Linked DNA regions of Homo sapiens. The protein of the gene in region 3 purifies or fractionates together with the protein of the main gene of each other region. This does not show direct contact. Each region holds a gene or a part of one and is shown on either strand. Other genes may lie near its edges.

Region 1 (3,659 bases), on a different chromosome or scaffold from region 3:
ACAGCCACCTTTGGGAAACACTGATTTAAGCAGGATTTGTAATGAGAATTAGAATCCCTTTTGGTGATGCTTGTTGGCCAAAGTACAACAAACCCCTCAACAGACACTGTTGCTGGGTTTTGGGGGGAAAATTAGAGGTAACCAAAATGGGGTGGCCAAGCAACGCTGTGCAAGTTCTGGACCTGAGAGGAGATCTGGGAAGAACTCAGCGAACTCAGCACTCCACCCAGAGCCCCCAGCCTGTGCGAGGACGGTGCGGTGAGAGTGGGGTGGAGGGAGCTTATGGGCTCTCCTGGGCCCCTCACCTGGATGGGAAAGATCCCGGGGACGATGGGGCAAGTGATGCCCATGTCGGTGCATGCCTTCACAAAGCGGAAGAATGTGTCAGCCTCAAAGAAAAGCTGCGTGATGATGAAATCGGCTCCCGCAGACACCTTCTCCTTCAAGTGCTTCAGGTCAGCCTCAAAGCTCCCTGCTTCGGGGTGGCCTTTGGGGTAACCTGCCAATAGGGATGACAGTCAGGAGAGGCTGGCCTCCACCTGTTCAAGGCGAGGGATGAAGAGACCACAGGGACTGGGCAGAGAGAGTCCTCTGCTTTGGGGGCTCTGATCTTGCACCTTCCAACAGCACAGCACAGCCTGAACTAAAACAGTGAGTGGCTGGGCTCATGACTGATATGCTTCTGACCCCAGAGATGACTCTCAGGGGAGGTGGCTCAGAGCCCAGTTCCAAGAGTGGGGGTGGATTGCTCCAAACTCCCACACTGTCCTGCCTTGAGCAGCCAAGCAAATCAGGCCTGCACTTGGTGGCCATAGAAAAGAGAAAATGCTACAGTTAGCACTGGCTGGGCAGCATCTGGGGTAGTAAGCTTGACTTTTCTCTAGGCACCGGATTAAACATTGTTTTTAATGTAACACTGAAATTACTCAGGGGTCCAAGATAGTGAAAAGCTAAAAACCAAGTTACACAAGGAAGAACTGAAGAAAGTGATGTTTTCTTCAAAGAAAATAATGGATGGCAGGGTGCGGTGGCTCATGTCTGTAATCCCAGCACTTTGGGAGGCCAAGGCAGGAGGATGACCTGAGGTCAGGAGTTCGAGACCAGCCTGGCCAACATGGTAAAACCCCGTCTCTACCAAAAATACAAAAATTAGCCAGGTGTGGTGGTGTATGCCTGTAATAGCTACTCAGGAGGCTGAGTCAGGAAAATTGCTTGAACCCACGAGACAGAGGTTGCAGTGAGCCGAGATCGTACCATTGCACTCTAGCCTGGGCAACGAGAGCGAAACTCCGTCTCAAAAAAAAAAAAAAAAAAAAGAATGAAAAGAATACAGAAACTCCTTTCAAATGTCCAAAGGTCTGTCCTGGGGAAAAAGGATCCACCATAGGTGAGTTTGTTTTGTTTTGTTTCAGAGACAGGGTCTTGCTCTGTCACCCAGGCTAGAGTGCAGTGATACAATCATGGCTCACTGTAGCCTTGAACTCCCGGGCACAAGTGATCTCCCACTTCAGTCTCCTGAGTAGCTTGGACTACAGATGCAAGCCACCACATCTGGCTAATTAAAAAAAATTTTTTTAATTAATTATTTATTTTTTAGAGATGGGGTCTTGCTATCTTGTCCAGGTTTGTCTGGAACTTCTGGGCTCAAGCAATCCTCCCACCTTGGCCTCCCAAAGTGCTGAGATTACAGGCATGAGCCACTGTACCCAGCCCCCTAGTGAAGTTCTTTATTAGTCATATTCTGTGTTGTTTCTAATGGCAGAACCAGCATCCGGTTCAGAGAGCTGGCTAGAGTACTATAAGCCACTCACAAAACAATGAGCTCCTGGAGTCTGAAAACACAGGGGCAGTGGATGCTGAAGACAAGATTCCAGAATTGCTTAGGAGGTGGGATCAGATGTCCCATAGGCTCCTTACTGGCTCTGTGAACTCTCTGACCCCTTTCCTCAATGACTAAACTTACTAGCCGCCTTGCTCGGTCAGGCAAGCAGGATGACCATAGGCCTTCATGAAACTACATGGAGTGCTGGTTTCATCAGCCCAAGCCCAGGGCAGGACTCTGAGCCAGGCGGAAGGCCAAGCTGCTTTGCTCTGATAAGGCAGTTCCGTTCTTAAGAAACCCAGAGTCATCAAAAAATGAATATAAAAACTATTGTTTCAAGGGGTAAGGGAGTGGGGGATAAAGCAATGGGGCTTCACACTTGCAATAACAAAGCTATTTTCCCAGTAGGAATTTCAGAAACAACAAGGCTTTTTAATAGCTGAAAAGTATAGCTACAATACCTAAATATCACCGAACAAATCTAGCATTTGATTACGTATAGATTTTGCTATTTACTCTATTTTTCTATCATGAACAGCTGAGGGCTTTCTTTTTTAAAATGTTTTTATTTTTTGTAGAGACACGGTCTCACTGTGTTGCCCAGGCTGGTCTTGATCTCCTGCCTCAGTCTCCCAAAGCTCTGGGATTACAGGCATGAGCTACCATGCCCAACAGGTTGGTGTTTTCTAATCCACTCATCTTCATTACCCACTTGATAAGCAAAGTAAGAAACCATTCAGCAACTGTGAGCTCACAGCTTCACTAGTTTCCAATCATTATCACCTAACGCCCATCACGGGTGCATATTCCCCCAGTAACTGACTATATAATGGCTGATACAAGCGATGACAATTTAACAGTTGGAAATGTCTGTTCTCTGACTCCTAATCAGTGCTTCCCAGACTTAGCACCTAAACACCCCTGTTGACAGAATGGACATGTCCATCGGGGGTTAGGGACAAGGCCAAAGTTACTCACAACATGTAATTTTCTTGAAGCCACGTGGTTTGTTTTTTGGGTTTTTTGTTTTGTTTTTTTTGAGACGGAGTCTGGCTCTGTTGCCCAGGCTACAGTGCATTGGTGCGATCTCGGCTCACTGCAAGCTCCGCCTCCTGGGTTCAAGCGATTCTCCTGCCTCAGCCTACCAAGTAGCTGGGACTACAGGCACGCGCCACCATGCCCGGCTAATTTTTGTATTTTTAGTAGAGACGGGGTTTCACTATGTTGGACAGGATGGTCTCAAACTCCTGATCTCATGATCCACCCGCCTTGGCCTCCCAAAGTGCTGGGATTATAGGCTTCAGCCACCGCACCTGGCCTTTTTTTTTTAGTTCATATCACTTTAGATGCTACTCCATAACATAGCCATGTTTAATATAAAAATGGTAGGATTTCTCCCAGAATATTGGCAAAAAAACTGTCATCCCAGAAAATGTGCCAATCCCGGGACTTCCTGTCCCTGGTGCACACTGTCTTGCCATACCTGAGCGCTGTCTGAGACGCTGAGGGCTCAATGCCAGCCTTCAGCTTCAAGGGTGGGAGAGAAGTCCAACCCACCCATTTCTGTTGGGGGAACCTGGTCTTGTGGCTGTGGCCAATGGTGATTCTCTTTCCTGGGAATTTGGAACGGAGGCCTGTCCATTAGCCTGGGGAACTGGCTGGAACTGACACTCTGCACACTCAGGAGCAGGCCAGGTGTGTGGAAAAGCATGGGTATCAGGTCTCCCAGATGAAGCACAGATGTGCAGTGGGAAGCGGAGATGGGGGACCCTGTGGCCCCAGAGGGAATGAGGGAGGGCCTTGCTTTTTGACCTCTTCCAGTGCCTTGTGAGGTCTG
Region 2 (2,467 bases), on a different chromosome or scaffold from region 3:
GTTACTTCCATGGCTGGCAAGTGTGATTACAAGTGATACCGGGGTTTGCTGAGGAGGTAATCTAGGTCAAGCACCTTATCAATCACAAGGCCTGGTACATAAATGGATAAGCAAGAGCTCTAATTAAGATGAGTGACTGAGGAGCTCGATGTGTGAAGGAATACAGGTAGGATTCAGCCTTCCATTCACAATCAAACTCCCGAAAACTTGGCAGGGAAATTAGATGGAGCCCATGGTTTGGATCCAACCTGGACCTTATTTTTTTATAGTATTTCTAAAAATAGAGTCTCATTAATGTCCAATGGCTACTAAGTTTTGTCCTCTCAAAATTAAAATAGCACTTGCCATTATCCAGTAGGAACTACAGTCAGCATTTTGGTTAATATCCTCCCAGTCATCTTTTGATATTCTAGATGTGTATCTAGTTATGCATAAGTACATATATAAAGTGTTATATAAACAGGCTCATCCTGTATATCCTATTTTAAAACTGCTTTACCACTAAACAATTACTTCCTAAAATCTTAATACCTGTTATTTCTTGTAAACTTTGATTTACTCCGGAGAAATCGGTCTGAAACAATTAGCATCTCACCTCTTTACTATCAGGCATATCAAAGGTTATTACATTAACAAAAAAATACATCAAGTTGACCTGACTTCATTTATGTAAGAGGTAGAAAATCTGAGTAAAGTTTTTTTTTCATTAATTAAATCCTATTTTAATGTAAATCCTCTTATAATTCCTCGTTTCACTAAAGTAATCTTGGAATCACTAAAGTTTTGTGGAAGCACCACCTATCTGGGGGAAAAACTGCCTTTAAACACCTGCAAATTGGGTTGATAGTATCTGGTTAAGAGGTGGTATCAGTCATGTAAGAGTAAGATTGTGACCGTTTAGTCATATTTAATAACCCACTTACATAACCCTTGTTATTTAATTCAGATACGATGTTCAGCTTGTATTTCTTGATAATAACCCCCCTCCTCCAAACCAACACAGATGTACACACCCAATCAGCGTGCATGACTGCTGACTGGCACTCTTTCCAGTGACTGTTTATTGAGTGTCAGGAACACAACTGTGATTATACAAAATGAAGTGGACAAACGGTCTTGCACAAATGACGTACATTTCACAGTTAATCGTGAAGGTTAGAAAGGTTAACAAGTTCTATTAGTACTTTTCATAAGCAGTTTGATTTCTGAAAAATACAGTAACATAATTTTAGTAACTACTAAAATTTCTTTAAAACTCCCTATCAATCTGAAGAACAAACTAAAAACCTGTTTATTACATGAATGCTACTTATGAGAATTTAAAATATGGGTTCACTTCCTATTTTCCACAAGTCTTTGACTTGTTTATTTACTAAATTAACAGAACGTGGGATGCAGTTTTTTAAGTTAGCAACTTCCTTAGGGTTACTGGGAAGTAGAGTAATTATGAAAAAGGGAACACTTCAATTATTGTATAAAAGATTGCTTTGCATACTGATTACTTCTTGAACCCCAAAAAGTGCTATTTAGAGGCAAGGGCCCATTTTGTGCCCATTAAAAGAAATATACAGGTGAATGTCTGTCTCATCCCTCTAATCATATGTAATAAAATTATATCGCTGTCAATAACAGCAAAGATAATGATATATTAATTTTAACAGCAGTTAGAACCAGAAGGAAAAGGCTGTTATACAGAAAAACATACAAATATGTAGGTAGAAGTGAAAAACTGAAGAATGTGGAGTGTTTACTGTCCCGTTACTCACACAGACGTGCTGGATTCAACACCCACGCTGAATCTCCATTTATTCCACGGAGGTGGAGTTCACCATGGTTCGACTGCCCACCAGATCCCCAAATGTCAAAGTGAAACAAAACTCAGTGAATTCTAGATGACTGTTTTACTTCCCCTAAAGAAGTTATCTGTAAATAAGAAAAATCAACTGATAGGGGGAAAAAAAAAAGATCTGTCATTTGTCAACAGATGGACGAAGACAAGCTATTGACTCAAAGAGAACCTGCCGCGAGTCTTAGTCTTTGGAAGGTCAGACAGCTGCAGTGTTCGGTCACATGGAGATGGTGTCTTCATGTCTCAGAGGCCGCATTCTGTAGGCCAGACGTGTGCTCACCAACCTATACAAGGGTCAGGGCAGTCCCGCAGGTAAGTTTCGAATTGACCTTTGGTAACATCTATCAAGGTTGTGTATACGGTCAGCTGAAAGAAAAGTTATTTTTACTTTAAGGACGTTTTCAATTCAGAGATGTTCTGATATATATTAGCATTTCTATACTTGTAGAATTTGCTTTAGAAGTTATTTAATATTAAATAATATAACTTAATATATGCAAAGCATGTTATATAATGTATATATTTATATTAATATAGTATAATCATATAAAATTAGCTAAAGTCTCACCAAATAACTAAAGCAAACAACTTCAACAGGATCACTGTTTCAGGTAATGA
Region 3 (3,465 bases):
TCCCGCTCCGTGGAGTGTACTTTCATTTAAATAAATCTGCGCTGTCATTGCTTTGTGTGTTTTGTTCAATTCTTTGTTCAATGCGTCAAGAACCTGGACATCTCACAGTCAGCACTTTCCATCTGGTACCAATTTGTACAATGAGAGGAATGTAGGGAAGGAGTGATCAAATAAGCTAACTGTGATTGTGAAATGACACGAAGTCTTTGCAGTGCTATCAAGACTATTTTTTTTTTGAGGTGGAGTTTCGCTTTTGTTGCCCAGGCTGGAGTGCAGTGACGCCATCTCGGCTCGCTGCAACCTCCGCCTCCCGGGTTCAAGCAATTCTCCTGCCTCAACCTCCCAAGTAGCTGGGATTACAGGCACGCACCACCATGCCCAGCTAATTTTTGTATTTTTAGTAGAGACAGCGTTTCTCCATGTTGGTCAGGCTGGTCTCGAACTCCCGACCTCCGGTGATCTGCCCACCTCAGCCTCCCAAAGTGCTGGGATTACAGGCGTGAGCCACTGCGCCCGGCCCGCTATCAAGACTATTAACATTGAAAATGGACACAGACTGGATTTCATTTGCCTTTAATTAAACACAAAGCTGTTACATATTTTTCTCTTCTAATAGCTGCTGGAAGTCTAAGCATATGGAAACGATACCTATGAAAATCAAATGGACATTTTGGGCTTTGTGGATCATTAAAGGTTTACACTTAAAAATTATTTTTTAATTAAAAAAATAAAAATTAATTAAAGGATGACAAATACATTGGGATGTTACTCAAAATGATAATCCTGTCTGCAGCTCACTTCAGTTATTCCTTGACTAGTTCTCTCACCGTCCATAGATTTTATCCTCACCAGGAAATCATGGCACACTTGCCTAGATATCACTGTGCACATGGGAAAACACTCGCAACGGGCTACAACTGTGCAGATGACCATAACTCTTCCTCACCCTGTGAGGAACTCTAGTTTTCTGCAGAACACAATTTTTCCATCAGTGTGTAGGGGCAGCAAAGTGACAATGCCAAATATATAAGGCAATTTAAAATTATTTCACAAAGGTATTAAAAACAAACACCCACATTGTGGTTCAAATCCAGATGAAGTACCTGGTCCCAGATGCCAATGTCCAAACTCATAAAAACATATGACATGGGCCTGGTGCGGTGGCTCACGCCTGTAATCCCAGCTCTGCGGGAGGCCAAGGCGGGCAGATCACGAGGTGAAGAGATCGAGACCATCCTGGCCAACAAGGTGAAACCCCACCTGTACTAAAAATACAAAAAATTAGCTGGGCGTGGCGGGGCACGCCTGTATTCCCAGCCACTTGGGAGGGTGAGGCAGGAGAATCGCTTGAACCTGGGAGGTGGAGGTTGCAGTGAGCTGAGATCGCACCACTGCACTCCAGCCTGGCAACAGAGCAAAACTCCGTCACACACATTCACACACACACACACACACACACACACACACACACTATATATATATATATATAAAATGTATACATCATGCCCTAAAATTTTTAATATTTGCAGAAATGAGGCTGAACCATAAATATACCTTTTGTCTCTTTTTTTTTTTGAGACAGAGTCCCACTCAGTCGCCCAGGCTGGAGTGTAGTGGTTCGATCTCTGCTCACTGCAAGTTCCGCCTCCTGGGTTCACGCCATTCTCCTGCCTCAGCCTCCCGAGTAGCTGGGACTACAGGCACCTGCCACCACGCCCAGCTAATTTTTTGTATTTTTTACTAGAGACAGGGTTTCACCGGGTTAGCCAGGATGGTCTTGATCTCCTGACCTCGTGATCCACCCGCCTCAGCCTCCCAAAGTGCTGGGATTACAGGCGTGAGCCACCGCGCCCGGCCAGGGAAATAATTATTGTTTCTTTTTTTCTTTTTAATTTGACACACGGTCTCATTCTGTCACCCTGGCTGGAGTACAGTGGCAAGATAACTCATTGCAGCCTGGACCTCTTGGTCTCAAGCCATCCTCCACCCTCAGCCTCCTGAGTAGCTGGCTCTACAAGTGCACATCACCATGCCTAGATACTTTTAAAAATTTCTTTTTATAGAGACTGTGTCTCACTATGTGCCCAGACTGGCCTTGAACTCCTGTGCTCAAGTGATCCTCCTGCCTCAGCCTCCCGAAGCTTTGGAATTACAAGTGTGAGCCACTGCCCCTGGTCCTGCCGTTATTTCTGTATTACTGCTCACTATTTCCTAACTCATGAGCAGTTCTTGAAATAGTATTAAAAAAAAAGAAATAGTATTTAAGACATATTACATGGTGGAACTATAAATGAATTCATGATGAGATTGTCACTTACTGAAGCCCGATCCTTTATTCTGCATTCCCTATTATCTACCTTGTCAAGTTTGATACTATACTTTATTCTGCCTTGATATTATCCAAAAAAAAAATTTTTTTTTTTTTGAGATGGAGTCTTACTCTTGTCGCCCAGGCTGGAGTGCAGTGGCGCAATCTTGGCTCACTGCAACCTCTGCCTCCCGGGTTCAAGCGATTCTCCTGCCTCAGCCTCCCAAGTAGCTGGGATTACAGGCGCCTGCCACCACGCCTGGCCAATTTTTTGTATTTTTAGTAGAGACAAGGTTTCACCATGTTCACCATGTTGGCCAGCGTGGTCTCGAACTCCTCACATCAGGTGATCCACCCGCCTCGGTGGGTCCTGGGATTACAGGCGTGAGCCATTGCTACTGGGCTCCAATAAAGTTTAAACTTGTTTTATTAGTTATCTTTTTATGTCTTTTGCTAGACTTATTTAATACTTAAATTTATAAAACCGTTACGTAAGTTTTTGTCATTATGAATAAACAAGAATTTATTAGGCTGGGCGCGGTGGCTCACGCCTGTAACCCCAGCACTTTGGGAGGCCGAGGTGGGCAGATCACAAGGTCAGGAGATCGAGACCAGCCTGGCCAGCATAGTGAAACCCCGTCTCTACTAAAAATACAAAAATTAGCCGGGTGTGGTGGCGGGTGCCTGTAATCCCAGCTCTTCAGGAGGCTGAGGTAGGAGAATCACTTGAACCTTGGCGGGGGGGTTGCAGTGAGCCAAGATCACGGCACTGCACTCCAGCCTGGGTAACAGAGCGAGAATCTGTCTCAAAAAAAAAAAAAAGAATTTCTTAGACAAAATTATAACAGTATAGGAAACAAATGTACTAGAAAGAAAATGTCTAAATCTGAATGCATCTGGTAATATTAATTCAGAAGTATAATTCTTTTTTTTGAGACGGAGTCTCGCTCTGTCACCCAGGCTGGAGTGCAGTGTCGCAATCTTGGCAAGCTCCGCCTCCCAGGTTCAAGCCATTCTCCTTCCTCAGCCTCCCGAGTAGCTGGGACTACAGGCACCTACCAGCACACCCCACTAATATTTTGTATTTTTAGTAGAGATGGGGTTTCACCGTGTTAGCCAGGATGGTCTCGATCTCTTGACCTCATGATCTGCCCGCC

What was found.
Region 1: the proteins of ZNF556 (region 3) and MTHFR purify together in Homo sapiens (affinity purification with mass spectrometry; one large-scale study listed by BioGRID and IntAct). This does not show direct contact.
Region 2: the proteins of ZNF556 (region 3) and ASAH1 purify together in Homo sapiens (affinity purification with mass spectrometry; one large-scale study listed by BioGRID and IntAct). This does not show direct contact.

What each region holds. Positions count from the first base shown.
Region 1 is NC_000001.11:11,795,901-11,799,559, forward strand, and holds part of MTHFR (methylenetetrahydrofolate reductase (NADPH)), read right to left. Parts: intron 500-3,659; coding exon 306-499; intron 1-305. UniProt on the Homo sapiens protein: Catalyzes the conversion of 5,10-methylenetetrahydrofolate to 5-methyltetrahydrofolate, a cosubstrate for homocysteine remethylation to methionine. Represents a key regulatory connection between the folate and methionine cycles.
Region 2 is NC_000008.11:18,055,409-18,057,875, forward strand, and holds the end of ASAH1 (acid ceramidase isoform a preproprotein), read right to left. Parts: intron 2,216-2,467; coding exon 2,126-2,215; 3' UTR 584-2,125; downstream 1-583. UniProt on the Homo sapiens protein: Lysosomal ceramidase that hydrolyzes sphingolipid ceramides into sphingosine and free fatty acids at acidic pH.
Region 3 is NC_000019.10:2,880,538-2,884,002, reverse strand, and holds the end of ZNF556 (zinc finger protein 556), read right to left. Parts: 3' UTR 558-3,465; downstream 1-557. UniProt on the Homo sapiens protein: May be involved in transcriptional regulation.